Linked DNA regions of Homo sapiens. The protein of the gene in region 1 interacts with the protein of each later gene in a pairwise test. Each region holds a gene or a part of one and is shown in the gene's direction. Other genes may lie near its edges.

What was found.
Region 2: the proteins of APOA2 (region 1) and PANX1 interact in binary tests that used the Homo sapiens proteins (3 or more experiments, as listed by UniProt).
Region 3: the proteins of APOA2 (region 1) and CIAO2A interact in binary tests that used the Homo sapiens proteins (3 or more experiments, as listed by UniProt).
Region 4: the proteins of APOA2 (region 1) and STOM interact in binary tests that used the Homo sapiens proteins (3 or more experiments, as listed by UniProt).

Annotation. Positions count from the first base shown.
Region 1 is NC_000001.11:161,220,452-161,227,634, reverse strand, and holds APOA2 (apolipoprotein A-II preproprotein), read left to right. Parts: upstream 1-4,006; 5' UTR 4,007-4,040; intron 4,041-4,209; 5' UTR 4,210-4,233; coding exon 4,234-4,285; intron 4,286-4,584; coding exon 4,585-4,717; intron 4,718-5,112; coding exon 5,113-5,230; 3' UTR 5,231-5,343; downstream 5,344-7,183. Other genes in the region: TOMM40L (mitochondrial import receptor subunit TOM40B), read right to left, coding at 285-377, 680-747, 1,031-1,145. UniProt on the Homo sapiens protein: May stabilize HDL (high density lipoprotein) structure by its association with lipids, and affect the HDL metabolism.
Region 2 is NC_000011.10:94,152,400-94,160,739, forward strand, and holds part of PANX1 (pannexin-1), read left to right. Parts: intron 1-1,091; coding exon 1,092-1,231; intron 1,232-8,340. UniProt on the Homo sapiens protein: Ion channel involved in a variety of physiological functions such as blood pressure regulation, apoptotic cell clearance and oogenesis.
Region 3 is NC_000015.10:64,076,167-64,084,506, reverse strand, and holds part of CIAO2A (cytosolic iron-sulfur assembly component 2A), read left to right. Parts: intron 1-3,355; coding exon 3,356-3,405; intron 3,406-8,340. UniProt on the Homo sapiens protein: Component of the cytosolic iron-sulfur protein assembly (CIA) complex, a multiprotein complex that mediates the incorporation of iron-sulfur cluster into extramitochondrial Fe/S proteins.
Region 4 is NC_000009.12:121,339,251-121,347,590, reverse strand, and holds part of STOM (stomatin), read left to right. Parts: intron 1-6,182; coding exon 6,183-6,389; 3' UTR 6,390-7,949; coding exon of another isoform or gene 7,950-7,970; 3' UTR 7,971-8,340. UniProt on the Homo sapiens protein: Regulates ion channel activity and transmembrane ion transport. Regulates ASIC2 and ASIC3 channel activity.

The DNA of each region.
Region 1 (7,183 bases):
TGTGGAAGGGTGTACACAGTAGTAAGGCTGAGCCGGATGGCACCACTCAGCCTAAACCCAAATATAGAACTTCATTAAGAGTGCACAGCGCCCCCTGGTGGAGTCACAAAGACACACTCTGGGCTCTTCACAGAAAATGTTTCTCTACCCTCTCTCATTCAGAAAAGACACAGAGAATCAGGTTACGGCCCATTCCTCCCCATAACACACACAATTCCTCTTCCTCCAGACCTGGGTCCCAGATTGGTTTTTAGGGAGATGACCCAGGTGTGTGGAGCCCTCACCTCAGTGGGACTGAGCTGCCAATCCCCTGCATAGGCCGCATGGAGGTGATATCCCGGCAAGCCCAGGGCACTCATGTGTATAGTGTGCGCCACCTGAGGAAAAGAGGATTCAGTGGAGAAAAGCGCATTCCTGCTCCACTTCAATCCCTCATCCCACCCTTAGTCTTTTCCCCATCCAGAGGGCCTCTCAAGAATCCTAAATATTCCAACATATACAGAGAAGGTCATCGGATTAAAAGCAACAAGTCCCACAGGCACGGAGGTAAAGAGAACCCCACATCCTCCCTCATTTGTCCCACATAGACTGGCTAGGGCTGGAGTACAAAGGAAAGGAGAAGATGATCCAGGGACAGGAAAGGGGGAATAGTAAGGAGGGGCCAGAGAAGTGGGAGCACCTGGAAATGGCTGCTCAGAACCTTGTTGACAACGAGCTTCACTCCCTCCATCTGTGCTGGGAATACATCTGAAGGGGGTAGGGGAAGGGAAGGAATAAGCACAGACAAAGAACCCCTACCCCAAAAGATAGTCTCCCCTTTCAATCCCATAGGGAACACTTTGGAGGAATTAACCTCCTTTCAAGTCCTGCAATGAAATGCTCCACTTCATTTGGGCACCTGATCCTCCCTGAGGCTGCATGACCCAGCTATGATCTCCCCTTTCCTGCTCCCATCGCCGGACATCCGGCATTCAAGACCCTCCACTCCTCTGCCCCTTCATCCTGAGACACCCAAGTGCCAAGTTCTCACCTTTGCATAGACGGTGCAGCTCATCGAAGCTCCCAGGGTTGGGCAGGGGTTCCTCTCGGCGGGGGCTCCGGCGGGGCAAAGTCCCCATTGGTGCCAGGCCCAATGTGTTCCCCATTTTAGTCCAGAGGACTGGGAAGAGCCGAGGTTAGCCTGTGAAAGGACGCTATTGCCCCTTTACCCCCCAACGGGCCCCACCCCCCATTATCCGGCTCCCCAGCCTCAGAAACTTCCACATGGTCCGACGCTACACCTGGAACAGGAAGAGTAGGGAAGGAGAGCACTCATGGAGAGACAACCCTAGGCACACTCCCGCCCCATCTTTGATCTCTCACCCCCACTTGTCACCCTTGTCCTCTCTCCCTTTCTCTGATCCTAGCCCCCACCACAGACTTCACCTAGCTCCCTAGCCTCTCTATTCTTCATTCCCAGGCCCCAAGACCAGGCCCGCAATGGTGCAGTATCCCTTACCATCTCAGACCATCATGCTGCCCCTTTCCCCCCGGCACACCCCGGTCATCTTGATGGGGGCAGCCATCTTGAGTGATGGCAGAACTGCAGCTTCACGCTGCATTCTTAGCGTGGCCGTAAGCGCCATCTTTGAATCTGGCAAAGAAAGCTGTCAAAGACCCAACCCAACCCTGATTGGGCCCCGCCCAATCAATGAAAAAAAAAAAAAAAAAAAAAAGCCTCGCTATTTACCATGGGCCAATGGGAAGGGAGGAAGAAAATGAGTGGCAGGTCTGACGGCCCAAGAGCTTCAACCCTGGAGCTGCAGAGGCGGGCAGGACTTGATTGGTGGCCCCTTAGACTTAAGTGGAAGGCTTTAGATCACTAGGCCTCTCCAAGGTCGGAAAAAAACTTGTGAGCGTACAAGACACTAGAGGGAGCATCTTGTAGCTTGGGCCACTGAAGCTCCTTCCACCCATGTAGTTTCATCCATGAGAAAAGTGGAACTACAGCTTGTAGACTGGCATAGTGTGAAGGGTGGCAGAAAGAACGATTATGAAGACTTCTTTGGAACCCTGGTTCATTTCTATCGCTCCCTTCTCTCCAAAGAACCCATGGGAAATCCTCCTCACAGCCCTCCACAGCACACCTCCAAATGAGTACTACTCATTAAGCGCAGCACTCCCTAGAACAGGGACCCACCCTTCTCTTCTGGAGGTCTACATCTCTCGAAGTCCCCGCTCTTGACCACTTGGTGGAATGGAAACGGGTGTGAGAGTTTGGCGCAGAGGAGTAAGTTCTAGCAGAACTATTCGCTGAAACAGCTGCTTTCTGTATTTAACCCTTCCTTCCCTGAGTCCCAAGGCAGAGTTGGCAAATAAAATCTAGGAATATGGAGCCTGGCCCCCAAAGGCACTCCATCCCAGGACCAGGGACAAGCCAAAGGGCTGACCTCAAGCACTAAGCGCTCCACAGGGGAATAATTGAAAATGGAGTAAGAGTTCTTGGTCTTGGAGGGTGAAGGGTGGGAGGAGGGAGAAGATCAGGAAAAATAACTAATGGATATTAGGCTTAATACCTGGGTGATGAAATAATCTGTACAACAAATCCCCATGACACAAGTTTACGTGTGTAACAAACTTGCATATATAGGCCAGGGGCGGTGGCTGATGCCTGTAATCCTAGCACTTTGGGAGGCCGAGGCGGGCAGATCACCTGAGGTCGGGAGTTCAAGACCAGCCTGACCAACATGGGGAAACCCCGTCTCTACTAAAAGTACAAAATTACCCGGGCGTGGTGGCGCATGTCTGTAATCCCAGCTACTTGGGATGCTGAGGCAGGAGAATCCTTGAACCCGGGAGGTGGAGGTTGCAGTGAGCCGAGATCATGCCATTACGCTCCAGCCTGAGCAACAAGAGCAAAACTCCGTCTCAGGAAAACAAACAAAAAAACCTGCACATATACTTCTGAATTTAAAACAAAAGTTAAAAAACAAAGATTTCTTGGTCTCTGGTCACTACCTCCCTCATCAGCTTTGCGCCTCCACTGTCACCCTCAGGAATGTTCCACATACTCAGCGAGTATGCTTGGGGGGCAAAAGGGTGAAAGATACAAAAGCTTCTGATATCTATTTAACTGATTTCACCCAAATGCTTTGAACCTGGGAATGTACCTCTCCCCCTCCCCCACCCCCAACAGGAGTGAGACAAGGGCCAGGGCTATTGCCCCTGCTGACTCAATATTGGCTAATCACTGCCTAGAACTGATAAGGTGATCAAATGACCAGGTGCCTTCAACCTTTACCCTGGTAGAAGCCTCTTATTCACCTCTTTTCCTGCCAGAGCCCTCCATTGGGAGGGGACGGGCGGAAGCTGTTTTCTGAATTTGTTTTACTGGGGGTAGGGTATGTTCAGTGATCAGCATCCAGGTCATTCTGGGCTCTCCTGTTTTCTCCCCGTCTCATTACACATTAACTCAAAAACGGACAAGATCATTTACACTTGCCCTCTTACCCGACCCTCATTCCCCTAACCCCCATAGCCCTCAACCCTGTCCCTGATTTCAATTCCTTTCTCCTTTCTTCTGCTCCCCAATATCTCTCTGCCAAGTTGCAGTAAAGTGGGATAAGGTTGAGAGATGAGATCTACCCATAATGGAATAAAGACACCATGAGCTTTCCATGGTATGATGGGTTGATGGTATTCCATGGGTTGATATGTCAGAGCTTTCCAGAGAAATAACTTGGAATCCTGCTTCCTGTTGCACTCAAGTCCAAGGACCTCAGATCTCAAAAGAATGAACCTCAAATATACCTGAAGTGTACCCCCTTAGCCTCCACTAAGAGCTGTACCCCCTGCCTCTCACCCCATCACCATGAGTCTTCCATGTGCTTGTCCTCTCCTCCCCCATTTCTCCAACTTGTTTATCCTCACATAATCCCTGCCCCACTGGGCCCATCCATAGTCCCTGTCACCTGACAGGGGGTGGGTAAACAGACAGGTATATAGCCCCTTCCTCTCCAGCCAGGGCAGGCACAGACACCAAGGACAGAGACGCTGGCTAGGTAAGATAAGGAGGCAAGATGTGTGAGCAGCATCCAAAGAGGCCTGGGCTTCAGTTGTGGAGAGGGAGAGAGCCAGGTTGGAATGGGCAGCAGGTAGGGAGATCCCTGGGGAGGAGCTGAAGCCCATTTGGCTTCAGTGTCCCCCAAACCCCCACCACCCTCTTCCTAGGCCGCCCTCCCCACTGTTACCAACATGAAGCTGCTCGCAGCAACTGTGCTACTCCTCACCATCTGCAGCCTTGAAGGTGGGTGTGATATGGAGAGGGGGCCAAAAGGGAGAATGTGCTGGTGGTTATAGCTACCTATCTGCCTGTGCTCTTATATCCAGGTCTGGCAACCAAAGGGCTCAAAAGGAAGATCATTCCCTCTCTAAAGCCCAGAAAGCCCATCCAAAGATCTGGCTGGATACCTTTTTGGGGAGGGGGCAGAGAGCTGGGGTGGGTACTGGCAGAGGTATGGCAGGAGGCCAGGATTCACTGCTGTGGACCCAGCTGAAAAGAGTGTGTGTGTGTGTGTGTGTGTGTGTGTGTGTGTGTGTGGGCAGGAGCTTTGGTTCGGAGACAGGCAAAGGAGCCATGTGTGGAGAGCCTGGTTTCTCAGTACTTCCAGACCGTGACTGACTATGGCAAGGACCTGATGGAGAAGGTCAAGAGCCCAGAGCTTCAGGCCGAGGCCAAGTAAGTCTCAGGGCAAGGGGTTCAGGGGCTGTGGAACTGTGGAGAGAAAGAAGGGAAGATGAGAGGTCCCACAGAAGTCTGAACCCAGGGGTGGGGATTAGGGCAGATTAGGCTTAAATTGCAGAGAAAAAGTATTTCATCACCCAAAGATCCCACACGTCTCTTAGATAGAGAGGAACAGCAAGAACTGGGCCTTGAATTTCAGTCTCTAGAGTCTGTCCCTCTACCTAGCAAAGGTCTTGACTCTATTCCTACCTAGGGGCTTTGCCATGCGATGGACCAGGCACTAGAGTTTGGGGACCTGAGTCAGTCTGCTCTGACCTCCCACCACCACCAAGGCCCCTGCCAGTGCCTAGGGTCCCTCAGATTAAACTCTAATCCCCTCACCTATCCAGGTCTTACTTTGAAAAGTCAAAGGAGCAGCTGACACCCCTGATCAAGAAGGCTGGAACGGAACTGGTTAACTTCTTGAGCTATTTCGTGGAACTTGGAACACAGCCTGCCACCCAGTGAAGTGTCCAGACCATTGTCTTCCAACCCCAGCTGGCCTCTAGAACACCCACTGGCCAGTCCTAGAGCTCCTGTCCCTACCCACTCTTTGCTACAATAAATGCTGAATGAATCCAGCTCTGAGCCTGGTATGTTTGGGGGACTGGGAAAAGTAGGGGAGTAAGGGAGGAGAAGAGGAAGGAAAAGGAAAAATCTGCTTCTAGAAGGAGAGAGGTTTGAGTGTGGAGGGGTGAAGAAAGGATTGAAGACACAACTGATGAAAATGACAGGATGAGGGTGCCATGATTCTCCAAACCCAGAGTCTCCTACAGCCTGGGCACGACTCTGCAGGTGAACACTAAAGAGGCTTTGCATTGCACAAGGAACTAGGAGAGGAAGGAAGGATTCACAAACTGAATCCCTCGATTTCTGGAGGTCATAGAAAATGAGGGTACCCTGGTGGGGTGCAGTGGCTCACACCTGTAATCCCTGCACTTTGGGAGGCCAAGGTAGGTGGATCACTTGAGATCAGGAGTTCCAGACCAGCCTAGCCAACATGGTAAAACCCCGTCTCTACTAAAAATACAAAAATTAGCCAGGTGTTGTGGCACGTGCCTGTAATCCCAGCTACTCGGGAGACTGAGGCATGAGAATCTTTTGAACCGGGGAGGCGGAGGTTGCAGTGAGCTGACATCGTGCCACTGCACTCCAGCCTAGGTGACAGAGCAAGACTCCGTCTCAAAAAAAAAAAAAAAAAAAAAAAAAAAAGAAAGTAAAGAAAAAAAGAAAATGAGGGTACCCCTCATAATTTCCTGTTAGTCATTCTATGAAGAAAAGAAAGCTTCCCAAGGTGTCACCCGTGGCCCTCCTTTCCCTTCTGAGCCAGGGGAACACTGTGTTTCCCCCTTTCCCACAATAAAAGACTTGAGTTTGCTCCTCTCCCTAGAAGTGCTCTAATTTCTCCATTTAAAACCTCTTATCTAGACCAGGCATCAAGGCTCACACCTGTAACCCCAGCACTTTGGAAGGCTGAGGTGGGAGACTCACTTGAGGCCAGGAGTTCGAGACCAGACTGAGAAACACAGTGAGCCCCCCTAATATATATATTTTTTTAATTAAAAACAAAAGACCAGCTGGGTGCAGTGGCTCACCTCTGTAATCCCAGCACTTTGGGAGGCCGAGGCAGGCAGATCACCTGAGGTCAGGAGTTCGAGACCAGCCTGGGTAACATGGTGAAACCCTGTCTCTACTAAAAATACAAAAATTAGCTGGGAGTGTTGGCACATGCCTATAATCCCAGCTACTCAAGAGACTGAGGCAGGAGAATCGCTTGAACCCGGAAGGTGGAGGTTGCAGTGAGTCGAGATCACGCCATTGCACTCCAGCCTGGGCACCAAGAGTGAATCTCCATCCCAACAACAACAACAACAACAAAAACCCTCTTATCTAGACACTGTCTGTGGAAGACCCATTCCAAGCCTCTCCTCCACTGCTATCCAGGCACTATTCATAGAACTGGCCTGGTAGCCATCTTGGAGCCTGGAAGTAGTAGCTGTGGTAGCCATTTAAAGGCCTGGCAAGTATCCAATTCGGTGGACATGTGGGACTAGAAAAACTTTGGGAGCTGTGATACCTGGATTAAATGAAAATGGAATGGAAATCAGTCCGGGTTGATGGGGAGAGACTTACAATCCCAAAAGGCAGAGCAAAGGAAAATGAAACATTTTCCAATAAAAGTTTATTCCCACTTTATCTTTAAAAGAGTTACTTCCAGGTCAGGCTCGGTGGCTCACACCTGTAATCCCAGCACTTTAGGAGGCTGAGGCGAGCAGATCACGAGGTCAAGAGATCAAGACCAACATAGTGAAACCCTGTCTCTACTAAAAATACAAAAAAAATTAGCTGGGCATGGTGGTGCCTGTAGTCTTAGCTACTCGGGAGGGTGAAGCACGAGAATCTCTTGAACCCAGGAGGCAG
Region 2 (8,340 bases), on another chromosome or scaffold:
CCTGCTGAGAGTGGCAGAGTCAAATTTAAATATGACTCATGTCAGAGCCCAGTCACTGAGCACACTCCCAGGCTGTGATGGATGTGGAAGAGAGTGTGCCTGTCATGGAGCCTTAGCTCTGACCCCTATGCCTGTGACACACACACCTTTGAATGTGCCAGGTGGGGACAGGGGATCAGGGCTGGGCCAGGCAAGGCCTAGCGCCAGCCCCTGTGCTACTGGTGGGAAGGGGAGGACACAGCCCTGCCTGAGCCTTACGATCCTATTGGTCAGTTTCCCTCCATGGCCTGTGTGTGTCAGGAGCACAAAGAGTCTTCCAGATGGTAGGTTTTACAGATGTGACGGTAGCATCTGCAGAGAGATGTAATCTTCAGTTTGCAGAGGAGAAAACCAAGTCCCAGAGTCCCTTCCCAGAAGAGCGAGTGAACGGTAGAGCCCCACCAGGACCCAGGTCTTCCCATTCCCCATCTACCGCCCATCTGCTGTTGGGAGGTTTGCAGTCGTGAGCGTTTCCCTTCCAAATGTAAACCAGTTGGGCTGCAGTTTCAGCCTGTTTCTTCTTTAGTGTTACAGGAGGTAGGAAACCACTGATTTCCCATCCAGTGTTCTATTACCAATGTTCCCTTCAGCTTTCTCTTCCTCAGGCTAATAGTTCTTTGCTTCTTTGTTCTAAAAGAACTTGTTTTTTTAGTCCAATTTTCCGCATTCAGGTGCCTCACTGACCCTCCCACATAACCTTTCCTTTTTCTCAATCCTTACTCCAAACTAAACCAGGTCTCTCCACGCTTGCCTCTTGAATTCTGGGCTCTGGTTCTTTTCCTGCTTCCTTTTTCTTTGTATGGTAGTTCTACTTCTTTTAAGAATTTTTCCCCAACTGAGGCCAAGCTGCTATCATGACCAGTGTTGGCCAAAACCACTCTGTGATCTTTTGTTTTAATATGAACTTGGGTGTTTGTTTTTAGTTCTGTCCTAATGTCTCCACCTCCTGTCCTGGTGCTCCCTAACTTAGACAAAACTAAAAACATGTGAGATGGGGACAAGAGTCCAGGTAAGCTGTGTTTTCATTGGAAACTATCTGTTTTGCTTCTTAGGTACACAGATAAGCTGTTTCTCTCCAAGTTCTTTCTCCTGGCGTCAGGCTGCCTTTGTGGATTCATATTGCTGGGCGGCTGTTCAGCAGAAGAACTCACTGCAGAGCGAGTCTGGAAACCTCCCACTGTGGCTGCATAAGGTAAAGGGAGACATTTCCAAATAGAACCTGTTTGCTTTATAGATAAGGAAACTAAAGCCCAGGGAGGCTATGCCAAAGACCACACAGATATTGTAGCCAACCAGTGCTGTATCTCAGATTGTAAAACTGTAGCACCTTATAGTCAAAAAGAACCTCAGAGATGACTTGGTGTAGGCACCATCATTTAGCACAATGGGGCAATGGGAAGTGTTCTTTGAGTTTTAGCTCTATAACAGCAGGCACCTTTTGTGTCTTGACACCTTTATATCATAATGCCCAGCAGGATGTCTGGCCCGTAGTAGGTTCTTAGTACATTTTGAGTGTCTGAATGAGCATAGCTAGACAGTGGCAGAGCTAGGATTCATGCATAGCTTCTCAGCTAGCACCTTTTCTACCACACACAGGGTCTCTTGCAGAAAGTAAGGACTGACCTAGAGTTCAGTTGCTTCTAGCTGATACGTTACTGGAACATCAAAAAGCCTAGTGATGAGGCCCTCTGGGGGTGTTGGCTGTAGCACTGTTTTTGGAATGGATCCCTTTGCTTTTTGATAGATCCAGATACTGCAGGGAAGGGGAGATACTACACAAGAGACACCAATGTCTGGGTTCCACTCCACTTCCCATAGAGAAGAGGTACATTCTGTAGTCAGGGAAGTGGTGGTTTGTGCATGCAGGTGGCAGGGGATGCAGTGAGGAACTTAGGCAGCAGTTGATAAGTTTGTGCAGAAGAATGTTCTCTGAGTTATGAAGTGACTGCATTAGGTCTTCTCTGTGCTTCTGAAAGTAGGACTTTGTTTCAGCCTGTCATTAATTTCAACCACTGTTTCTTTTGTCCATTGTGAAAACAATTAGAATGTGTATCTTCTGGTATTCTTTTCTGCTGAAGAAAATATAGAATTTTAGCTTTCGAAAACCCAAAAGCCAAAGTTTGACTCTCTTCTGCTTTGACCTGCTTCCAGACACACCATCAGCATCCTTCTTCGTAAAAGGAATGATTTAAGGGAGCTATGACTCAGGCATGTTTGTTTATAGTTGACCCTTGAACAATGTGGGGGTCGGGGCACTGGTCCCCTGCACAGTCAAAAATTTGTGTGTAACATTTGACTTCCCCAAAACTTAACTACTGATAGCCTACTGTTGACTGGAAGCCTTACCAATAACATAAACAGTCAATTAACACATATTTTATATGCTATATGTATTATATACTGTATTCTTACAATAAGCTAGAGAACAGAAAATGTTATTAAGAATATTATAAGGAAAAGAAAATATATTTACTATTCAGTTTGTGCAAACGTAATTGTGGGTTTTGCCATTAAAAGTAATTGCAAGGTGGGTGAGGTGGGCGGATCACCTGAAGTCAGGAGTTTGAGACCAGCCTGGCCAACATGGTAAAACCCCGTCTCTACTAAAAATACAAAAATTAACCAGGCGTGGCTGGGTGCGGTGGCTCATGCCTGTAATCCCAGCACTTTGGGAGGCCGAGGCAAGCGGATCACTTGAGGTCAGGAGTTCGAGACCAGCCTGGCCAACATGGTGAAACCCCATCTCCACTAAAAATACAAAAATTAGCTGGGTGTGGTACGGGTGCCTGTAATCCCAGCTACTCGGGAGGCTAAGGCAGGAGAATCGCTTGAGCCCAGGAGGTGGAAGTTGCAGTGAGCTGACATCGTGCCATTGCACTCCAGCCTGGGGAACAAGAGTGGAACTCCATCTCAAAAAAAAAAAAAAAAAGCCAGGCATGCTGGTGCATGCCTGTAGTCTCAGTTACTCGGGAGGCTGAGGCAGGAGAATCACTTGAATGCGGGAGGTAGAGGTTGAAGAGAGCAGAGATCACACCACTGCACTCCAGCATGGGCAACAGAGTGAGACTCCAAAAAATAATAATAATAAAATAAATATATAAAAGTAATGGCAAAACGCGCAATTACTTTTGCTCCAACCTAATATTTATTAAGTGGAAGTGGAACATCATAAAGGTCTTCATCCTCGTTGTCTTTATGTTGAGTAGCTCAGGAGGAGGAGGAAGAGGAGAGGTTGTTCATGCTGTATCAGGAGCGGTAGAGGCAGAAGAAAAGCCCCATAAAAGTGGGCCCATGTAGTTCAAATTCATGTTGTTCAAGCGTCAACTGTACTGCTTGCCATTTTGCATAGTGGTGCCCTATAGTGACTCTTTTCTCCTTTTAGGTTGGGCTTTTCTCTTTATTTTCAGCCATAGGTGGGTTCTCGTCAGCTTTGCATGGTTTAGTAGCCAAGGCAACAAATAATAGGACTTGCAGTGTGAATGACCACAGTTCTAAAGTTTAACAGCTTGCTTTGTAAATCCAAATTTTTACTGTTGTAGTTTAAGTTCGTTTGTTATAGTGTTCTCATGAAAATAGAGAGTTTTAATGAGTCACTGGGCTGCCTTTGATGGATCCGCAGGAGAATTGTCTAAGAGTTGGCAGGGGTGTTAGTAATTATTTTAGAGCAAGAATAAACTGAAAGATTTTTTATCCAGATGTATTTTACATTTAAGGGTAAGGGAACTTTGAGGGATCTAGCCTAAAGGTTATAGGACCAGTTACTGACCAACACATCAGAGCTCAGATCTTCAGACTTCTAGCCCATTGCTCTTCTAGTCAAGGAAGGGGAAATCTGGAAACAGTATAGGTAGCCAAACCTTAAGTTACCTGGTATTAATGAGAGATTAAGAAACCCTCTTTCTGGCAGTGGAAGACTGCTTGTTTGAATGGAGGTTTATCTAAGTTTCTCAGCAGAGCTCTTGCCAGATTCACAAGGCTGGGGACAGAAATTGAAGTCAGGACCTGCCACGTTGGAAGGACCCTTATTAACACTCCTTGGCATTTGGTTGGGACTCTGAAAGGCTGTTCCTTGAGAATAAGGGGCGATCCAGAATTAATCTAGCTCCCATAGGGACAAGAGTCCTGATTTAAATCATTGCAATAGCAGTTGAATGACAGAGATCGGGGATTACGAGTGTCTGGTCTACTTGCCTGCCAGAAGTAAAAATAAATCCTTTCTGGAGGATTTTCTGGGTGTGATTATCATTCATCTTTTTTTAAAAAAAATTATTTTTCTCGTTTTTTTTTTTCCTTTTTTTTAATTATACTTTAAGTTTTAGGGTACATGTGCACAACATGCAGGTTTGTTACATATGTATACTTGTGCCATGTTGGTGTGCTGCACCCATTAACTCGTCATTTAACATTAGGTATACCTCCTAATGCTATCCCTCCCCACTCCCCCCACCCAAAAACAAGCCCCAGTGTGTGATGTTCCCCTTCCTGTGTCCATGTGTTGTCGTTGTTCAATTCCCAACTATGAGCAAGAACATGCGGTGTTTGGTTTTTTTGTCCTTGCGATACTTTGCTGAGAATGATGGTTTCCAGCTTCATCCATGTCCCTACAAAGGACATGAACTCATCCTTTTTTATGGCTGCATAGTATTCCATGGTGTATATGTGCCACATTTTCTTAATCCAGTCTATCATTGTTGGACATTTGGGTTGGTTCCAAGTCTTTGCTATTGTGAATAGTGCCACAATAAACATACATGTACATGTGTCTTTATAGCAGCATGATTTATAATCCTTTGGGTATATACCTAGTAATGGGATGGCTGGGATGGCTGGGTCAAATGGTATTTCTAGTTCTAGATCCCTGAGGAATCGCCACACTGACTTCCACAATGGTTGAACTAGTTTACAGTCCCACCAACAGTGTAAAAGTGTTCCTATTCCTCCACCTCCTCTCCCGCACCTGTTGTTTCCTGACTTTTTAATGATCGCCATTCTAACTGGTGTGAGATGGTATCTCATTGTGGTTTTGATTTGCATTTCTCTGATGGCCATTGATGATGAGCATTTTTTCATGTGTCTGTTGGCTGCATAAATGTCTTCTTTTGAGAAGTGTCTGTTCATGTCCTTCGCCCACTTTTTGATGGGGTTGTTTGTTTTTTTCTTGTAAATTTGTTTGAGTTCATTTTAGATTCTGGATATTAGCCCTTTGTCAGATGAGTAGGTTGTGAAAATTTTCTCCCATTCTGTAGGTTGCCTGTTCACTCTGATGGTAGTTTCTTTTGCTGTGCAGAAAGAAGCTCTTTAGTTTACTTAGATCCCATTTGTCAATTTTGGCTTTTGTTGCCATTGCTTTTGGTGTTTTAGACATGAAGTCCTTGCCCATGCCTATGTCCTGAATGGTATTGCCTAGGTTTTCTTCTAGGGTTTTTATGGTTTTAGGTCTAAGATTTAAGTCTTTAATCCATCTTGAATTAATTTTTGTATAAGGTGTAAGGAAGGGGGATCCAGCTTCAGCTTTCTATGTATAGCTAGCCAGTTTTCCCAGTACCATTTATTAAATAGGGAATCCTTTCCCCATTTCTTGTTTTTGTCAGGTTTGTCAAATATCAGATGGTTGTAGATATGTGGCATTATTTCTGAGGGCTCTGTTCTGTTCCATTGATCTATATCTCTGTTTTGGTAGCAGTACCATGCTGTTTTGGTTACTGCTAGTAGCCTTGTAGTATAGTTTGAAGTCAGGTAGCATGATGCCTCCAGCTTAGTTCTTTTGGCTTAGGATTGACTTGGCGATGCAGGCTCTTTTTTGGTTCCATATGAACTTTAAAGTAGTTTTTTCCAATTCTGTGAAGAAAGTCATTGGTAGCTTGATGGGGATGGCATTGAATCTATAAATTACCTTGGGCAGTATGGCCATTTTCATGATATTGATTCTTCTTATCCAGGAGCATGGAACGTTCTTCCATTTGTTTGTGTCCTCTTTAATTTCATTGAGCAGTGGTTTGTAGTTCTCCTTGAAGAGGTCCTTCACATCCCTTGTAAGTTGGATTCCTAGGTATTTTATTCTCTTTGAAGCAATTGTGAATGGGAGTTCACTCATGATTTGGCTCTCTGTTTGTCTGTTATTGGTGTATAAGAATGCTTGTGATTTTTGCACATTGATTTTGTATCCTGAGACTTTGCTGAAGTTGCTTATAAGCTTAAGGAGATTTTGGGCTGAGACAATGGGGTTTTCTAAATATACAATCATGTCATCTGCAAACAGGGACAATTTGACTTCCTCTTTTCCTGATTGAATGCCCTTTATTTCCCTCTCCTGCCTGATTGCCCTGGCCAGAACTTCCAACACTATGTTGAATAGGAGTGGTGAGAGAGGGCATCCCTGTCTTGTGCCAGTTTTCAAAGGGAATGCTTCCAGTTTTTGCCCATTCAGTATGATATCAGCTGTGGGTTTGTCATAGATAGCTCTTATTATTTTGAGATACGTGCCATCAATACGTAATTTATTGAGAGTTTCTAGCATGAAGGGTTGTTGAATTTTGTCAAAGGCCTTTTCTGCATCTGTTGAGATAATCATACGGTTTTTGTCATTGGTTCTGTTTATATGCTGGATTACATTTATTGATTTGCGTATGTTGAACCAGCCTTGCATCCCAGGGTTGAAGCCCACTTGATCATGGTGGATAAGCTTTTTGATGTGCTGCTGGATTCGGTTTGCCAGTATTTTATTGAGGATTTTTGCGTCGATGTTCATCAGGGATATTGGTCTAAAGTTCTTTTTTTTTGTTGTTGTGTCTCTGCCAGGCTTTGGTATCAGGATGATGCTGGCCTCATAAAATGAGTTAGGGAGGATTCCCTCTTTTTCTATTGATTGGAATAGTTTCAGAAGGAATGGTAACAGCTCCTCCTTGTACCTCTGGTAGAATTCGGCTGTGAATCCATCTGGTCCTGGACTTTTTTTGGTTGGTAAGCTATTAATTTTTGCCTCAATTTCAGAGCCTGTTATTGGTCTATTCAGAGATTCAACTTCTTCCTGGTTTTAGTCTTGGGAGGGTGTATGTGTCGAGGAATTTATCCATTTCTTCGAGGTGTTTATAGTATTCTCAGATGGTAGTTTGTATTTCTGTGGGATCAGTGGTGATATCCCCTTTATCATTTTTTATTGCGTCTATTTGATTCTTCTCTCTTTTCTTTATTAGTCTTGCTAGCGGTCTATCAATTTTGTTGATCTTTTCAGAAAACCAGCTCCTGGATTTATTGGTTGTTTGAAGGGTTTTTTTGTGTCTCTATTTCCTTCAGTTCTGCCCTGATGTTAGTTATTTCTTGCCTTCTGCTTGCTTTTGAATGTGTTTGCTCTTGCTTCTCTAGTTCTTTTAATTGTGATGTTAGCGTGTCAATTTTAGATCTTTCCTGCTTTCTCTTGTGGGCATTTAGTGCTCTAAATTTCCCTCTATACACTGCTTTGAATGTGTCCCAGAGATTCTGGTATGTTGTGTCTTTGTTCTCGTTGGTTTCAAAGAACATCTTTATTTCTGTCTTCATTTCGTTATGTACCCAGTAGTCATTCAGGAGCAGGTTGTTCAGTTTCCATGTAGTTGAGCAGTTTTGAGTCAGTTTCTTAATCCTGAATTCTAGTTTGATTGCAGTGTGGTCTGAGAGACAGTTTGTTATAATTTCTGTTCTTTTATATTTGCTGAGGAGTGCTTTACTTCAACTATGTGGTCAATTTTGGAATAAGTGCAGTGTGGTGCTGAGAAGAATGTATATTCTGTTGATTTGGGGTGGACAGTTCTGTAGATGTCTATTAAGTCTGCTTGATGCAGAGCTGAGTTCAATTCCTGGATATCCTTGTTAACTTTCTGTCTCGTTGCTCTGTCTAATGTTGACAGTGAGGTGTTAAAGTCTCCCATTATTATTGTGGGAGTCTAAGTCTCTTTGTAGGTCTCTAAGGACTGGCTTTATGAATCTGGGGGCTCCTGTATTGGGTGCATATATATTTAGGATAGTTAGCTCTTCTTGTTGAATTGATCCCTTTCACATTATGTAATGGCCTTCTTTGTCTCTTTTGATCTTTGTTGGTTTAAAGTCTCTTTTATCAGAGACTAGGATTGCAACCCCTGCCTTTTTTTGTTTTCCATTTGCTTGCTAGATCTTCCTCCACCCCTTTATTTTGAGCCTATGTTTGTCTCTGCATGTGAGATGGTTTTCCTGAATACAGCACACTGATGGGTCTTGAGTCTTTATCCAATTTGCCAGTCTGTGTCTTTTAATTGGAGCATTTAGCCCATTTACATTTAAAATTAATAT
Region 3 (8,340 bases), on another chromosome or scaffold:
TGAGCCTCCGTGCCTGGCCTTATATAAATATTTTTATATATCTCATTATTGCATCAGGATAAATTCCTATACGTGGAATAATTGGGTTAGATTATGTAAGTATTTTGAAGCCTCATGGTATATATTGGTAAATCCCTATCTGGAAGTTTATACTGTTTGACGCAGGAGTTAAGGAACTAATTTTATAGAAGAAAATATTCGCCAGACGTGGTGGCCCACACCTGTAATTGTAACACTTTGGGAGGCCGAGGCGAGAGGATCACTGGAGCCTAGGAGTTTGAAACCAGCAATCTCTTAAAAAAGAAAAAAAACATGAAAAAGCTTGAATAAGTTCAAATTGCATCATGATTGCAGTTATAGAAAAATGTGTACGTGGACAAATATCAGGAGAGTGCATGAAATAAAAACTGTTCTGTAAGGGTGCTAACATTAGATTATAGTTGATATTTCAGATCTGTACACTTCCTGTAGAAAGTTTTGTCTTAGCCCTTTCGTTATGCATTTCAGCTAAGACCATTGGCTTTTTATTTTTTATTTTTATTTTATTTTATTTTATTTTTTTTTGAGACAGAGTCTTGCTCTGTTGCCCAGGTTGGAAAGCAGTGGTGCTGTCTTGGCTTACTGCAACCTCTGCCTCCTGGGTTCAAGCGATTCTCGTGCCTCGGCCTCCAAGTAGCTGGGATCATAGGCGCGTGCCACCATGCCCAACTAATTTTTTGTATTTTCAATAGAGACGGGGTTTCTCCATGTTACCCAGGCTAGTCTCAAACTCCTAGCCTCAAGTGATCCGCCCACCTCGGCCTCCCAAAGTGCTGGGATTACAAGTGTGAGCTGCCACACCCGGCCTATTGGTTTTTTAGAGAATTGTATAATAGTGTATCATAGTAGTTTTGTTCAGTCAACACAGCTGGAAAACTTGAGAGAAGCCTTCGTCTGTCTGATGTGTTAACAGATATTCCTCCAGAGCAGGTAGTCCTAGCCTGGAAAGGTGCCTGAGTAAGAGTATCACCTACTCAATGTTACCTTGGTAAGTGATTGACAAGGAAGACTCCAAGGGAACAAGAGGGTAAGGCAGGGAAACAAGTTGATAATCATTTGTGGTGACTTATTCCAGATAAGAATGGCTGAAGGCAGCTGTGGTCCAATGGGAACGGTCTTAGGGTTTGGAGGTCAGAAGGTGTAGGTTTGGGTTCTACCTCTGCCACTTGTTAGCTAAGTAATGTTAAATCACCTACCTTGGTTTCTTGGCTGTAAAATGAAAATTATAAAATAGTATAAAATAGTAATATTTTATACTATTATTTTTTACTATTTATAGTAATTATTTTTATACTATTATTGTACACTTATGTGTCAGGTACTGTTTTAAACACATTGCATAACAGGTTATTCCTCATAGCAACCCTATATATTGTGATATTATTATATATATTTTTAAGTTTTATTATTATTATTATTATTATTACTTTTAGAGATGGGGTCTTGCTACGTTGCCCAGGCTGGTCTTGAACTCCTGGGCTCAAGCAGTCCTCCCGCCTTGGCTTCCCAAAGTGCTGGGATTACAGGCATGAGCCACCTTGCCCAGCTGATACTATAATGCCTGTTTTGCAGATAAGGAAACTGAAGCTCAGAGAGGTTAAGTAACTTATGCAGGATCACAGCGAGTATGTAGTGAAGCTACTTTTGAAACCCAAAGTATCTCAGTTATGCTGTACTACCTCTCTTGAGGATAATGATGCTCAAAAAAGTGCTTTGCGAATTGTAAAACACCTACCAATAGTGACTAAAATACGTGAGGATATTCAGACAGTACACAGATAACAAATTAAGGAGACAATGGTGGGGCCAGGGGAAGAGGAACTCTCCCAGATATGCTTTAAGGCAGATCCTCTGAAGAGAGACCCTCTTAAGGAAATAATATATTTTCTTTAGAATTCTCTAATATTTATTATAGAACTACTGTGTTCAAGACTCTATAAGGTCGGGCGCGGTGGCTCATGCCTATAATACCAGCACTTTGGGAGGCCGAGGCGGGCAGATCACTTGAGGTCAGAAGTTCAAGACCAGCCTGGCCAACATGATGAAACCTTGTCTCTACTAAAAATACAAAAATTAGTGGGTGTGGTAGCGTGCTTCTGTAGTCCCAGCTACTCAGGAGGCCGAGACAGGAGAATCTCTTGAACCCAGGAGGTAGAGGTTGCAGTGAGCTGAGATCTCGCCACTGTACTCCAGCCTGGGCAATAGAGCAAGACTCTGTCTCAAAAAAATAAATAAGTAAATAAAGACCCTGTGGCAGGCACCACCTCATTATATCTCATCTAATCCTTTTCCCTGTTTTGGGATTTTTCAAAAAATTCTCTTAGAAAACCAAATGGTACTTAGAAAACCAAAACCAAGTTACTACCTCCCTAAAAGATAGGTAGTCTAACAATTATATCTTGCTGTATTGCTGTATGGTTTGAGGTTTTGTTGATGTGTCTTAGCATGGGATGATAAACTGAACTTCAGTGGAACTTGTTTTAAAGAAGTTACTGTATTTGTACCTTGCAGGCATAAAGGATTACAAATTTGAGAGATTTTATGTGGCCCTTTTAAAATGGCTTTGACTTGTTTTATTTTTTTGCGTGTCCTGGCCTGTTGTGGGGCATTTTAAAAAGTTAATTGAATTGGCCGGGTGGGGTGGCTCATGCCTGTAATCCTAGCACTTTGGAAGGCTAAGGCAGGCGGATCACTTGAGGTAAAGAGTTTGAGACCAGCCTGGCCAACATGGTGAAACCCCATCTGTACCAAAAATATATAAAAATTAACTGGGTGTGGTGGTGTGCGCCTGTAATCCCAGCTACTTGGGAGGCTGAGGCAGGAGAATTGCTTGAACCGAGAGGCGGAGGTTGCAGTGAGCCGAGATCATGCCACTGCACTCCAGCCTGGGCGACAGTTCAAGACTCCGTCTCAAAAAAAAAAAAAAAAAAAAGGCTTAATGAGTTAATTGACTTTTGCTGGAAGGCCAACTGATGTAGTAAAAATGGCCTGGGCTTTCCAGTGGTCATAGGTTCCAATCCCAATTCTGCCACTGTTGTAACTCAGTGACCTTGAGGAAGTTACGTTGTGACTTTGGTTTAATAATTTGTAGAAGGGGATTAGTAATAGCTTATTGGATTATCCTAAGGAATATGTAAGATTATATATTAAATTTCCTAGCGTGGTGCCAGCCTCAAAGGAGCTCTGCTCTGGATTGAGCCAAAGCTGTTTTCAGCAACTGTGTTGTATGGGGGCACATAAACGCAGTTGTATGCTTTTTCAAGAACCAATAAGAAGCAATAAAGAGATAATTGGAGGTGTGATTTTCCCTCCACAGGGCTGTGCTTAAGAGTAAAACTTCAGCGATGTTTACCATTTAAACATAAGGTAAGAAAGATGTATTTTTGTTGTTGTTGTTGTTGTAAAACAGCTTTGTTGAGATATAATTCACATACCACACAATTCACGTATTTAAAGTGTACCAATTCAGTGGTTTTTGCTTGTCTGTTACTCAGTTGATGGACATTTAGGTTGTTTCTACTTTTTGTCTATTATGAGTAATGCTGCTATGAACATTCATGTATAAGTTTTTGTGTAGGCATATATTTTCATTTCTTTTCCACCTGTGAGTGGAATCGCCCGGTCCTATGGTAACTCTGTGTTTAACATTTTGAGGAATTGTTTGTTTTCCACAGTGGCTGCACCATTCTGCGTTCCCACTTCTCCACATCCTTGCTAACATTTATTATTATCTTTGATTACAGGCATTCTAGTGGGTGTGAAGTGATGGTTTTTTGTTTTTGTTTTTTGAATCAGAGTCTCACTGTCACCCAGGCTGGAGTTCAGTGGCGCCATCTCAGCTTACTGCAACCTCTGCCTCTCAGGTTCAAGCGATTCTCCTGCCTCAGCCTCCCGAGTAGCTGGGACTACAGGTGCCCACCACCACGCCCAGCTAATTTTTTGTATTTTTAGTAGAGACGGGGTTTCACCATATTGGTCAGGCTGGTCTTGAACTCCTGACCTCATGATCCACCCGCCTCGGCCTCTCAAAGTGCTGGGATTACAGGCATGAGCCACTGTGCCTGGCCTTGTTTTTGTTTTTGAGACAAAGTCTTGCCCTGTCGCCAGGCTGGAGTGCAGTGGTGCAATCTCGGCTCACTGCAACCTCCGCCTCCAGGGTTCAAGCGATTCTCGTGCTTCAGCCTCCCAGGCAGTTTGGATTATAGGCATGTACCACCATTCCCGGCTAATTTTTTTTTATTTTTAGTAGAGACAGGGTTTCACCATGTTGGCCAGGCTGGTCTTGAACTCTTGGCCTCAAGTGATCCACTGCCTCGGCCTCCCAAAGTGCTGGGATTATAGGCATGAGCCACTGCACCCTGCTGTCATGGTGGTTGTGATTTTTATTTCTCTGATGGCTAATAATGTTGAGAACCTTTTCATGTGGTTTTTGGCCATTTGTGTATCTTTGGAGAGCTGTCTATTCAGATCCTTTGCCCATTTTAAAATAAGGATGTCTTTTTATTATTGAATTATAAGAGTTCTTTATATAGTCTAAATACAAGTCCCTTGTCAGATATGATTGGCAAATATGTTCTCCCATTCTGTGTGTTGTCTTTTCACTTTCTTGATGGTGTCCTTTACAGTACAAAAGTTTTAAATTTTCATAAAGTCTAATTTGTTTTTAATTTTTTAACTTGTGCTTTTGGTGTGATAATCTGAGGAAGATGTTTTTAACCCTACTATTGAGCAAGAATATGGATATCACAGTTAATTCATAGTAATTGGTTATCGCTCGTGAATGATTCGGCCTTGTCTCTTACTGCCTCTTGTAATTGCTGGGCAATTATGCCTTCTCTACCTGGCTGCTACCTAGCCTTTACACAGAGTACCCTGTCTACTTGGAGTTCCCTTCCTCCCATCTCATATGTTCAAATCCTACACATCTTTTTTGTTTGCTGTTGAGACAGGGTCTTGCTCTGTCTCCCAGGCTGGAGTGCAGTGGTGTGATCACTGCTTACTGCAGCCTCTATCTCCGAGGCTCAGCCTCCCAAGTAGCTAGGACTACAGGCGTGCACTGCCATGCCTGGCTAATTTTTTCTTAATTTTTGGTAGAGATGAGGTCTCTCTTTGTTGCCCAAGCTAGTCTCAAACTCCTGGGCTCAAGTGATCATCTTGCCTTGGCCTCTCAAAGTGTTGGGATTATAGGCATGAACCACTGGGCCTGGCCAAATCCTACCCACGTTTTAAGGCCCAGTGAAATACTATTTTATTTTCCATGATATCAGTCCTGATTTCTTTCTTCTTTTTAAGATGAATTTTTATTTATCTTTTAAATTTTTTTTTTTATTTTTTGTATTCACCTTTCCATACTACTAGTCCTGATTTCTGTAACTAAAGCTATTTCTTTTTTTGAATTGCCGTGGCTCTTTCTTTTTGTTTTTTTTAAAGACAGGGTCTCACCCTGTTGCCCAAGCTGGAATATAGTGGTATGATTACAGCTCACTGAACCTTTGATCTCCCAGGCTCAAGTGAGCCTCCCTCCTTACCCTCCCAAGTAGCTGGAACCACAGGTATATGCCACCATGCCCAGCTAATTTTATTTTTTGTAGTGACAGAGTCTCACTATGTTGCCCAAGCTGTTCGTGAACTCCTGGGCTCAAGCAGTCCTCCCGCCTTGGTTTCCCAAAGTGTTTCGGATTACAGGCGTGAGCCACTGCACCCAGCCCCGTGGCTCTTTCTTTGTCTTCTGATGTAGAGAGTGTCCTTTTCTAACTTGTGTTCTGTTTGTTTTTCATCTTCCCTCCTGGACTGTCAACTTCTCTCTCTTTTCTTTTTTTTTTTTTTTTGTTTGCGATGGAATCTCGCTCTGTCGCCCAGGCTGGAGGGCAGTGGTGCGATCTCGGCCCAGTGCAGCCTCTGACTCCTGGGTTCAAGCGATTATCCTGCCTCAGCCTCCCAAATAGCTGGGATTACAGGCGCATACCACCACACCCAGCTAAATTTTTGTATTTTTAGTAGAGACAGGGTTTTGCCATGTTGGCCAGTTTGGTCTTGAACTCCTGACTTCAGGTGATACACCCGCCTTAGCCTCCCAAAGTGCTGGGATCACAGGCATGAGCCACCATGCCTGACCAGCTAGCTGTCAGCTTCTTGAAGTCAAGATTCATATATGATACATCTCTGTGTTCCTGCTATGATCTTATACATATTTGGAGCTCAATAAATACGTCTTAAATTGAGTAAATTAATAAATTATTATACTAGTGGTTTATGATGCCCTGTAAATTTTATTTTTCATTTTTAACTGTTTTAATTACAATGTTTAACTTTTTATTTGAAATGAAAATAATGAAAGAAAAGAAATAAAATAGTGAAGAATAGTACAAAGAAATTCCATATATCCTTCACCCAGATTCAGATTCACTAATTGTTAACATTTTGCCACATTTGGTTTATCATTAATTTCTCTCTATATATGTACACACACATACACATATTTTCTGGAAATGTTTGAGTGCATTTGTAATGCCCCCTTACTCTAAATACTATAGGATGTATTTCCTGAAAACAAGGACATTCTCTTACATTACCACAGTATAAATTTCTAAACCAGGACATTGATACAGTACTGTCATCTCATCTACAGCACGTATTCCAATGGGTAACATCCTTCATGGCGGTCCCTCCTCCTGGCTCTGCTCCTCTCCCCCATCATACATTGCATTAGTTGCCATGTCTCTTTAGTCTCATTTAATTTAGAGTAGTTCCTTAGCCTTTATTTCATGATCTTGATATTTTTGAAGAATGTAAACCAGATATTTTATAGATTGTCCCTCAAATTGAGTTTTCTGATGTTTCCTGGTTAGATTCAGTTTGTGCATTTTTGGCAAGAATACTGAATAAATGTGTTCTCATTGCATCACATCAGAGGCCTATAAATTCAGTTTGTCCCATTATTGGTAACAGCTCCCCTCATCAATTGGTTACCCTGAAGTATAGTTCATATAGGAATAGCTGCATAAATGCTGCCTTTTCCCCTTTATCACTTTTAGAATAATGAGTCCTGTGTAATTTTAAACTGAAGTAAGTCAGTATAGAGTGATTCTATACCTGTTGCTTTGAGGTCTAGAATAAGAGTGTTTTGCTACTAGGAGAAAGGTGTTTTGTTTTGTTTTGTTTTGTTTTGTTGAGACGGAGTCTCGCTCTGTCACCCAGGCTGGAGTGCAGTGGCGCAGTCTCAGCTCACTGTAACCTCCACCTCCCGGGTTCAAGGGATTCTCCTGCCTCAGCCTCCTGAGTAGCTGGTAATACACGCCCGGCTAATTTTTTGTATTTTTAGTAGAGTTGGGGTTTTACTGTGTTAGCCAGGATGGTCTCGATCTCCTGACCTCGTGATCCGCCTGCCTCGGCCTCCCAAATTGCTGGGATTACAGGCATGAGCCACCACGCCCGGCTTGTTTTGTTTTTTAAAAAAAATTGGGGCCAGGTGCAGTGGCTCACGCCTATAATCTCTGTACTTTGGGAGGCCTAGATGGGCGGATCACTTAACCTCAGGAATTCAAGACCAGCTTGGGCAATATGGCGATACGCGGTCTCTACAAAAAAATAGAGACGAGGGAGGAGAGGGGTGGGAGTGTGGGAGCTGAGGTGGGAGGATCACCTGAGCCCAGGAAGTCGAGGCTGTAGTGAGACATGATCGCGCCACTGCACTCCAGCCTAGGCGACAGAGTAAGACCTGTCTCAAAAAAAAAAAAAAAAAAAAGATTGGACTAGATGACCTTTAAGGTCCCTTTTAACTATAATAAGTTATGATTTTTCTCACTCATGAGAAATGTTTATCTCCGTAGTAAATAAGTAAATAAAAATTAGTTCATATGTTCCAGTGTTCTCTGGAAAGTAGACGTCTTTATTACAGCATACTCTCTTTACCACAGGATTTGCAATAATTTTGTAGGTTGTCTTAAAAGCTCTGGGTCTTGGAGGGTAGCTCATGTCTATAGGTGCAGCAGGGCCAGGAGGGATAGCTTAACCAGTATTATACTTGAGAATAAATTTAGCATGATAATAATGAATGAGAAAAGAAGGATGCTGAAAACTATATTGTGATCCCATTTTTGTAAAACAAGCAATGTGAAGAAACTTCCAACCCTGATATGTGGGTGTGTGTGTGTGTAAAATCTGTGTAAGATTATGTGGGTAAAGAGAAGAATATGGAAGAAACCACACTAGATTGTTATTGTAGATTTCCTGAGTCAGTAGCAGGGCAGGAGGAAGTTTAGATACCGAGTTGGGAAGAAGTAGAGTGCAGAAAAGAGATAT
Region 4 (8,340 bases), on another chromosome or scaffold:
CATTCCATCCATACCACCCATCTCTTACTTATTTTTGGCTTCTTTTTTGTTCTGTTTCTTTTCTCAGGCTCTTTTTCCCTTTTACTGTTTCCTATTCCTCATTCTCTCTTTTCCTCTTGTTTATATTCTCTTACTTTGACATCTGCCTTTTTTCTTCCTTCTTTTCATCATCATCTGCCTATGTCTTAACCCTGCATGGGTGGCATGGCCCCTCTGGGAGGCACTGAGGAAATATTTGTTAACCTAACCTAGAAAAGAGTATCTTTAAAGATGATAATGTGTAAAATTTCAGGGATATCTCACCAAACCCAAAGGTAGGAAGTAGGGGCAAGTCTCACCAAAATTGGAACCAGAAGGCAGTTCAGGGAACTAGTCATTCCCTTTCCTGTGCCACATCTCACTGTAGATAGCTTGTGGTGGAGAATGTCTAGCTCCCAGGTTTAGATGTCTGCCAGGTGAACACTAAAGAACACAGACCAGCCCTAATTCCACATTCACAGAAGAGACAGTCTTTTTGGTCCAACTTTGGTCAAAGTGCAAAGATAGCATAATAATATGGTTCCACAGCCCTATGCCTGTGAATGGGCTGAAGAAGAAGAGCAGTTTTCATAGGAGGAGTTGCTGTGGACTTGACAAATCTCCCAAGACACAAGGAGCAAACCAATTTGTTGTTAGAAAATAGTAGTAGCTGGTCATCACTGGCTGACCACAGAACGCTGTTCTTTTCTTAGGATGCCCTTTAAGCCACAAACTGGTCACTATAATTTCTTAGCCAGCATCAAATAGGATAGTAGCTCATTTGACATGCGACTTCAGAATTTTGCATTAACCAAAATGTTTAGGTTTTCCTGGTATGATGATTGTTGCTTTGTGATGATAACCTGGTAGTACTACAGAACCCTCTAGTGCTTTCTTTCAAAACTGTTACGTTTAGAAGATTAAATTATGTTTACGATGTTATTAAATGTGCCCTATCATCTCCTTATTTTGAAAATTAGGAATTGCTTTTAACTAGAATATGTTATTAGGCAAAAGCCTCATTTCCAAACCAGATTGAATAGTAGAATGTACCATACATATACTACGTAGAATGTCAGAGCCCAAAGGATCCTCAGAGATTATCTTCCATAGGTGGCAAACACTTAGCCCAGATGCTAGCACTCCATCCTGCTATTCCCATGCTAGTAATTAACCACAGCACTGTTTTCCTCTGAGCTTAGACTTGGCCTCAGAACCCTTCTATAGCACTCTGGGTAACAACCCTCAACTGCTTAGAGTTAGCTCTAAAAAACAAAACTTGAGGCCAAGCACAGTGGCTCACGTCTGTAATCCCAGCACTTTGGGAGGCTGAGGTGGGTGGATCACCTGAGGTGAGGAGTTCAAGACCAGCCTGGCCACCATGGTGAAACCCCGTCCTTACTAAAAATACAAAGAGTAGCCTGGTGTGGTGGTAGGCGCCTGTAATCCCAGCTACTGGGGAGGCTGAGAAGGAGAATTGCTTGAACCCTGGAGGTGGAGGTTGCAGTGAGCTGAGATTGCGCCACTGCACTTCAGCCCAGGCGACAGAGCAAGACTTCTTCTCAAAAAAATTAAATTAAATAAAAAATTAATAATAATAAAAACTTAAAAAAAAATGAAACTTGTTTGCCATCCCACTATTCAAAGGAAAAATTGAAGCTCTGAAAAGTTAAGTGACGTCCGCAAGGTCGCACAGTTGATTAGTAGCAGTGGAAATTAGAATTCCCCTCTGCTCCTCATTGCCTCCTCTAGTACTGACTTCCCAGGATGGGCTATGAGCCTCTTCCATAGCATTCTTAAGAGTTTGGAAAGAAAATTTCTATCTTCCCTTTATAACAGTAAGAAAAGATAGAAGAAACCGCTTAGAATTCTGAATTGCCATGCTCCCACTTGGACGGGGCTGTAGGGTTAGTCTAGAAGCAGTCTCATGAACCTGGGCAGTGACTGTCTTGGAGTTCACACATAGAATCACAATGAGCCTAGCCCTTCTGTAAAATACAGTAACCCTGCAACAACCATAGGCTTATTGTATTGAAATTCTCATGGAAAATAGGGGGGTCACAGTTTCTTCAACAAATAAATTGCACAGGAAAGGTGAGATAGAGTGGAATAATCTAAAGATTAAGAGACTTTATAGAAAAATTCCTTAGGCTAATTAGCCATCGGGGAAATGCAAATTCACATTATAAGCGGATGTCACACTAGACAGCTATCAGAATGGCCTGAAAAGAACGGAAAAGAACCAAGTGTGGGTGAGAGAGGAACTAGAACTCTCATATTCTGCTGGTGGCAGTGTAACTTAATACAACCACTGTGGAAAACAGTCTGGCAATGTCTATTCATACTGAACATTTGTATACCCTATGAGCCAGCAGCTCCAACTCCTAAGTATGAATCTAACAGAAATGCACTCATATGTTTACCAAAAGGCATGTACTAGAATGTTCACAGCAGCACATTGACCCAAACTGTAGAATACCCAAATGTCCATTCCTAGCTGAATGAATGAAGTCTGGTTTATTCACATGTAGGCATACTACATAGCAAAGAGAATGAATGTAAGTGCTCACACACATAATTTGAGTGAAAGAAGCCGGTCACAGAAGAGGACAGATTCTCCTACGTGTTTCTCTGTATGTTAGGTTTGGTTTTTAAAGTGTTTAGACCAGCTCTTAGTGGCCTGAAATGTAATATCTTTTGTGTTTGCATCAGCTTTTATTTCCTTTTCATAACTCTCAGAAAAACACCTGGCACATGCTTTTGGGCTCATGTTTCTGGGTGTAGAAGTCTATTAATTGAGAGGATGGAGTGCAGAAATACAGATCACCTTTCTCTGCCTTTTCCTCTGCCCAGACCACCTGGTCTGCAGAAGGGACAGGTAGCACCAATTTCACATACATGAAAATGCCAGACTTTAAAATGATGTTCTATAAATATGAAATGTTGATTGCTATGAGATTACTGCACATTCGACAAAAGCCGTGCACACCCACAAATAGCTTGCTTTGCTCTCTAAGATCCTATCAACGGAGTGTACTTGGCCTGTATTTAGACAAAGCCGGTGGTGTTGTTTACATCTTTGGCAGCTTGCTCAGTGTGGCTTTTCTATGAACAAAATGTGTGCCCAGCCCGGTGGGTCTGGCTTCTCAGCCAAGCGATTGTGTATTGATTGGTGGTGGGAAATGAGATATCTTTTCAGTTGGTCCATGTCCAAAGAAAAAAGTGCCTAATTGGACATCTGAGATGATATGGAAAAAATGAGAGCCTGCTGCTCTCATAGCAGGGGATTTCTGATGTATTCTCTGTAGTGCCTACCTTGGAATACAGTTCTGTGGTTTTCTTTGAGCAAAGCTGGCACTTGTCCCTTCTCACAGACCTAGGCAGGACATGATGTGTGGCTTTGATAAATTAAGGTTTTTATCCTATAAGCTGGATCCTTTCTCTCAGTGAGTACTATATTCTGTATCCTATCTCCATTAATGGCACTAATCTATGCAACCAAAACCTGGAAACCTGGGTCTCAGCCTGTGTCCCCCTTTCCTCCTCCTACCTAGTCTCCAAATTCCACTGATTCGCCCTCCTTCGGGGAGGGAGAATAGCTCCCCAAACCATTTCATTCTCTGTCCCCACCACCTATGAATCGCACCGGCCACTCTAAAGCAGTTCCACTAGCAGCTTTCACTGCCTTCTCTTCTAACCTCAGACATCTGTCAGAGAGCTTTTTCAAACTAGATCTGATGGAGTTTACTTACCTGCTTAAAATCATTCTGCAGCTTCCCATTGCCTACAGAATGAAGACCAAACACCCTGGCCCTCACTGCCCTTCAGAACCCGGCCCCATTCATCCCCCACCTTTCCCCTCTTCCTGCCATAGTATTCAGCCATTGACAGTTTTCTGGAATATACCATTTTTATACCTCAGTACCGTTTCATGTGTTCTGCCCAAAATATTCTTCCTCATCTTTTTCTAAACAGCAAACATTTTATCATTTAATATTCAACTTCTATAACCTCACCACGTCACCCTCTGGAAAAGTTGCTTTCTTCTGTTTGCTTGCACTGTGCCTTGTACATATGTCTGTCAGCATTTATCACACTAGAATGAAATGATCTACTTCCATGTCTGCCTTCCCTACCTGACCAGGAGCTGAAGAAGGCTAGGGATTCCACTCTATCCTTAGCTTTTCCTACACAGGGCTTATTAACCCTAGAAGGCCCCCAAATTTTGCTGTGTGAGTGAATGAAATCTCACTGGGCATAAGACCATCACCTCCAATTCTGATATTCATGGAGTATTATGGACCATTAATTATTCAAGATTCAAGTGAGGATAATAACCTGGAGAAATTGTACTTTTAATCTTGATAATTATGGTGTCTTAATACCTTTCCTTCTTCTAGGATTATGAATTAAAGTAACTACCTTGAATCTTTTGTGCATTAAAGCATAGTTGGACCCAAAAATCAGGTCTTGTCACTTGCCATTCCTCTATAATAGCCCCCTTTATTCATTTAACACTTTATATACTTTCTCTGTCTTCCTCACAAGTGGTCCTCTGAAGTACATGTTAGTCTGCTTTAAGAATGGGAAACTGAGGTTCAGGATGTTCAGTAACCTCTCTGAGGACATTCGGCTGGTAAATGTTAGATTTGGGATTTGAACTCAAGTCCATTTGACTCCAGAACTCCTGTTCTGTCTACTACTCGAGTGATCTTCAAACTTTTTTGCCTGTGAAACCCCTTACAGAATTTAGAAAAACTATAAAGTCCATCAAACATTTTAAATCGGCATGTAAAAATTTTTCATCTTGAATTTATGTACTTGCCAAGAATATAATTCCTGGCATGTTGTAAATATTGACATTTTTAAATAAAACTGTTAACATCATTCTTTTAAATGTACCCAATGAGAAATAATAATGATTTAGTTATCCATTAAAAATATGTAAGTAAACTCTTAACAGTCAGGAGCTTTTTATTGTTTTTTTCTTCTTCTTCTTAAACCTAAGTTTTTTATTGCATCTTCACTTCCGCCAGATTCTTTTCCTAACATACATTTTGTCATGAATTATTTTATTAACATACTGCAACATATTTAGTCCATAAGTTAGAATTAATTTTTAAAAATTTCCTGTAACTAAAAACAAGGTTCTACAAACATTTCAGAATTTCTCCTAAATAAGAAGTCAATTTTTTTTTTTTTTTTTGAGACAGATTCTCATTCTGTCAGCCAAGCTGGAGTGCAGCAGTGGCATGATCTCGGCTCACTGCAACCTCCCGGGTTCGAGCAATTCTCCTGTCTCAGCCTCCCAAGTAGCTGGGTTTACAGGTGCTTGCCACAACGCCCAGCTAATTTTTGTACTTTTAGTAGAGATAGGGTTTTGCCATGTTGGCCAGGCTGGTCTCGAACTCCTGACCTCAAGTGATCTGCCCGCCTTGGCCTCCCAAAGTTTTGGGATTACAGGTGTGAGCCACTGCACCCAGTACCAGAAGTCAATTTTTACTAGAAATGCTTGTCTTTATAAGATGAATGAGAATTAAATCGTACATGTATAGATGGCTGTTGTTTAATGCTAGAATGAGACACGATTCAGCATCAATTTTATTCCTATTTTTCATTTTTATAGCTATAAGGACTTTGAAACCTTATTTACATAAATAAGTAGATGGAAATGGAAGTTCTGTTTAAAGTAGTATCATACAGTTCTTAGCACTTTGAATTTATGTGCTAAAAAAATCATATCACAGTCTTTCATCAAAAAATATTTATAATGACCTGTCAGCTTTCAGTTTAGTAAGGTACTCATCAGAGAATTGGAAATGCTGCTGACTTGCAAAAGGATTTGCCTGCAGTCATTAAAGTTACTTGCTTTCTCAATCCTGCACAGTATTTTGAATTATCCCTTTGTTTGTTACCCTGGAAAATGGGAGAAAGGCTATAGTAAAAGAGAATGTCTTGATCCAGGCACTAGTCAGGCAAGTCAGTTTCAGAAAAAGAAGCATATGGAAACTGAGTATGTAGAAATTGATTTTCTTAAAACTACTCTGGCATACGCCCTAGAAAGTTTTGTGGACCACCTGAGGTATACATACCCCCGGTTGAAGAGTGCTGTGTGTCCCCATGAGGTTTTCTCCAGTTCAACCCCTCCTTTCACCTGTCCATAGGTTATTGCAGCCGAAGGAGAAATGAATGCATCCAGGGCTCTGAAAGAAGCCTCCATGGTCATCACTGAATCTCCTGCAGCCCTTCAGCTCCGATACCTGCAGACACTGACCACCATTGCTGCTGAGAAAAACTCAACAATTGTCTTCCCTCTGCCCATAGATATGCTGCAAGGAATCATAGGGGCAAAACACAGCCATCTAGGCTAGTGTAGAGATGAGCGCTAGCCTTCCAAGCATGAAGTCGGGGACCAAATTAGCCTTTAACTCATAAAGAGAGGGTAGGGCTTTTCTTTTTCCATATGTCAATTGTGGTGTTCCCAGAATGTATAGCAGTTATAAAAATAGGTGAAAGAATTGTTAGCTTGTAAATACTGAGAGATTGGTGATTTATATAAGGTAATCTGTTAGTCTTAAAATAGTTAAAAGTTTGTATTTTTAGATTATTATGTAGTAGGTTAGATCCCTCTTGTTTTGACTTCCACTGACTCATTCTGAACCCCCTAAGCACCCAGGCCAGAGGCAAGAACCTGGGCTGTAACTGCCACCTGACACCGCTGACTGGCTAAATGCTTTGCAGAAAGTGATGACCTTACACCACAACCAGCTTCTCCAGGTCATATGTGCCTTACCTCCAGAGAGTCTTTTTTTTTTTTTTTCTGAGATGGAGTTTCACTCTTGTTGCCCAGGCTGGAGTGCAATAGCATGATCTCGGCTCACTGCAACCTCCGCCTCCTGGGTTCAAGAGATTCTCCTGCCTCAGCCTCCCCAGTAGCTGGGATTACAGGCTCATGCCACCATGCCCAGCTAATTTTTGTATTATTATTATTGTTTTTTAGTAGAGACGGGGTTTCACCATGTTGGCCAGGCTAGTCACGAACTCCTAACCTCAGGTGATCCACCCACCTCTGCCTCCCAAAGTGCTGGGATTACAGGCATGAGCTACCACACCTGGTTTGGAGAGTCTTAATTAAGGAAATTTCCCTAATGTTCATTTATTTTCTAAATCCAGACCGTGTTTCAGAATAATCCTTACTTGAGAGTAGCCATTTTCTTGCCTGTACTTGTCAGAACTAGAGGAAATAGCCAAGACTAATGAAAAAGATTACTCTAACCCTTAAAAGACTTTTAAATTCACTACTAGAGTGGTCATTTTAAAAATACATCCATGTTTTAACTTATTTGAGCCTTCTTTATGAGTAAATGATTCCTCCTTGTTCTGTCTTTCAAACCAGCTAAATATTTGTCACAAAAGTGCTTTTTTCTCACTGTTGCCTATTTTCATATATCAGGTTTTAAATAGTTTTAATTTTTTAATAAAATTTTCTCTACGTTCTATATGCAATTGTTATATATCTATTTGAATAGCTGAAGGACTAAAATACTTTTTTAAGAGATAACTTCAGGAAACCATTATATTTTACTATCTGCATGCTGTTAACTGTGGTACACTGTGAAATATGTTGATTACAAACCCATTCATTACATAGTATAAGGAATTCACAGTATATTGACTATATAGTGTCTAATGATCTTGGGCAGATACTGTCAAACTTACAATATCTATATAGATGTAGGTCTTTTTAAATTTACCTAGTCATTCTTCTATCATGTATATTGATGCTGAAAGAGGAACTGGTCAGCTCCTCTGGACAACAAATTCTTAGTCTATAATATTAGGAGACATCTTCTGTTTTGCAAATGTCTGTGAATCTGAGCAACCTGGCATTCTGCTTACTGGCCAGAAAGCTGGCGGGTGACATTTGTAACATTTCCTCTTTGAGACTCTGAGTTCACCTAGAGAAGTCTAAGCATAACAGCTTTCTTTCCCAGCACGAGCCTTTATAGCTCTCTTTAGCTCAACCACTCTGTCCATCCAGCCAATGGATGTCCCTTCCCCTGTACCCCAATTTCAAGCTTATTTTAGGAAGCCTTGAACTACCATGTATCCTGGCTCCTAGCTGAGTTTATTAGAGGTATGGAGCAGTGCAACTTAAACTCAAGTTGCACTTACATTTTGAATTTTAAAATGATGGTTTTATCTGTTGTGTGAAGTGGTTCACCCTTGAGGACCAGGAGCCTCCATATCCTGACTGAAAACCTTTTCTGAGACTTAGAGTAACAGTGCTTTTGGTTCCTTGAGTTCTCCTGTCTCCAGATA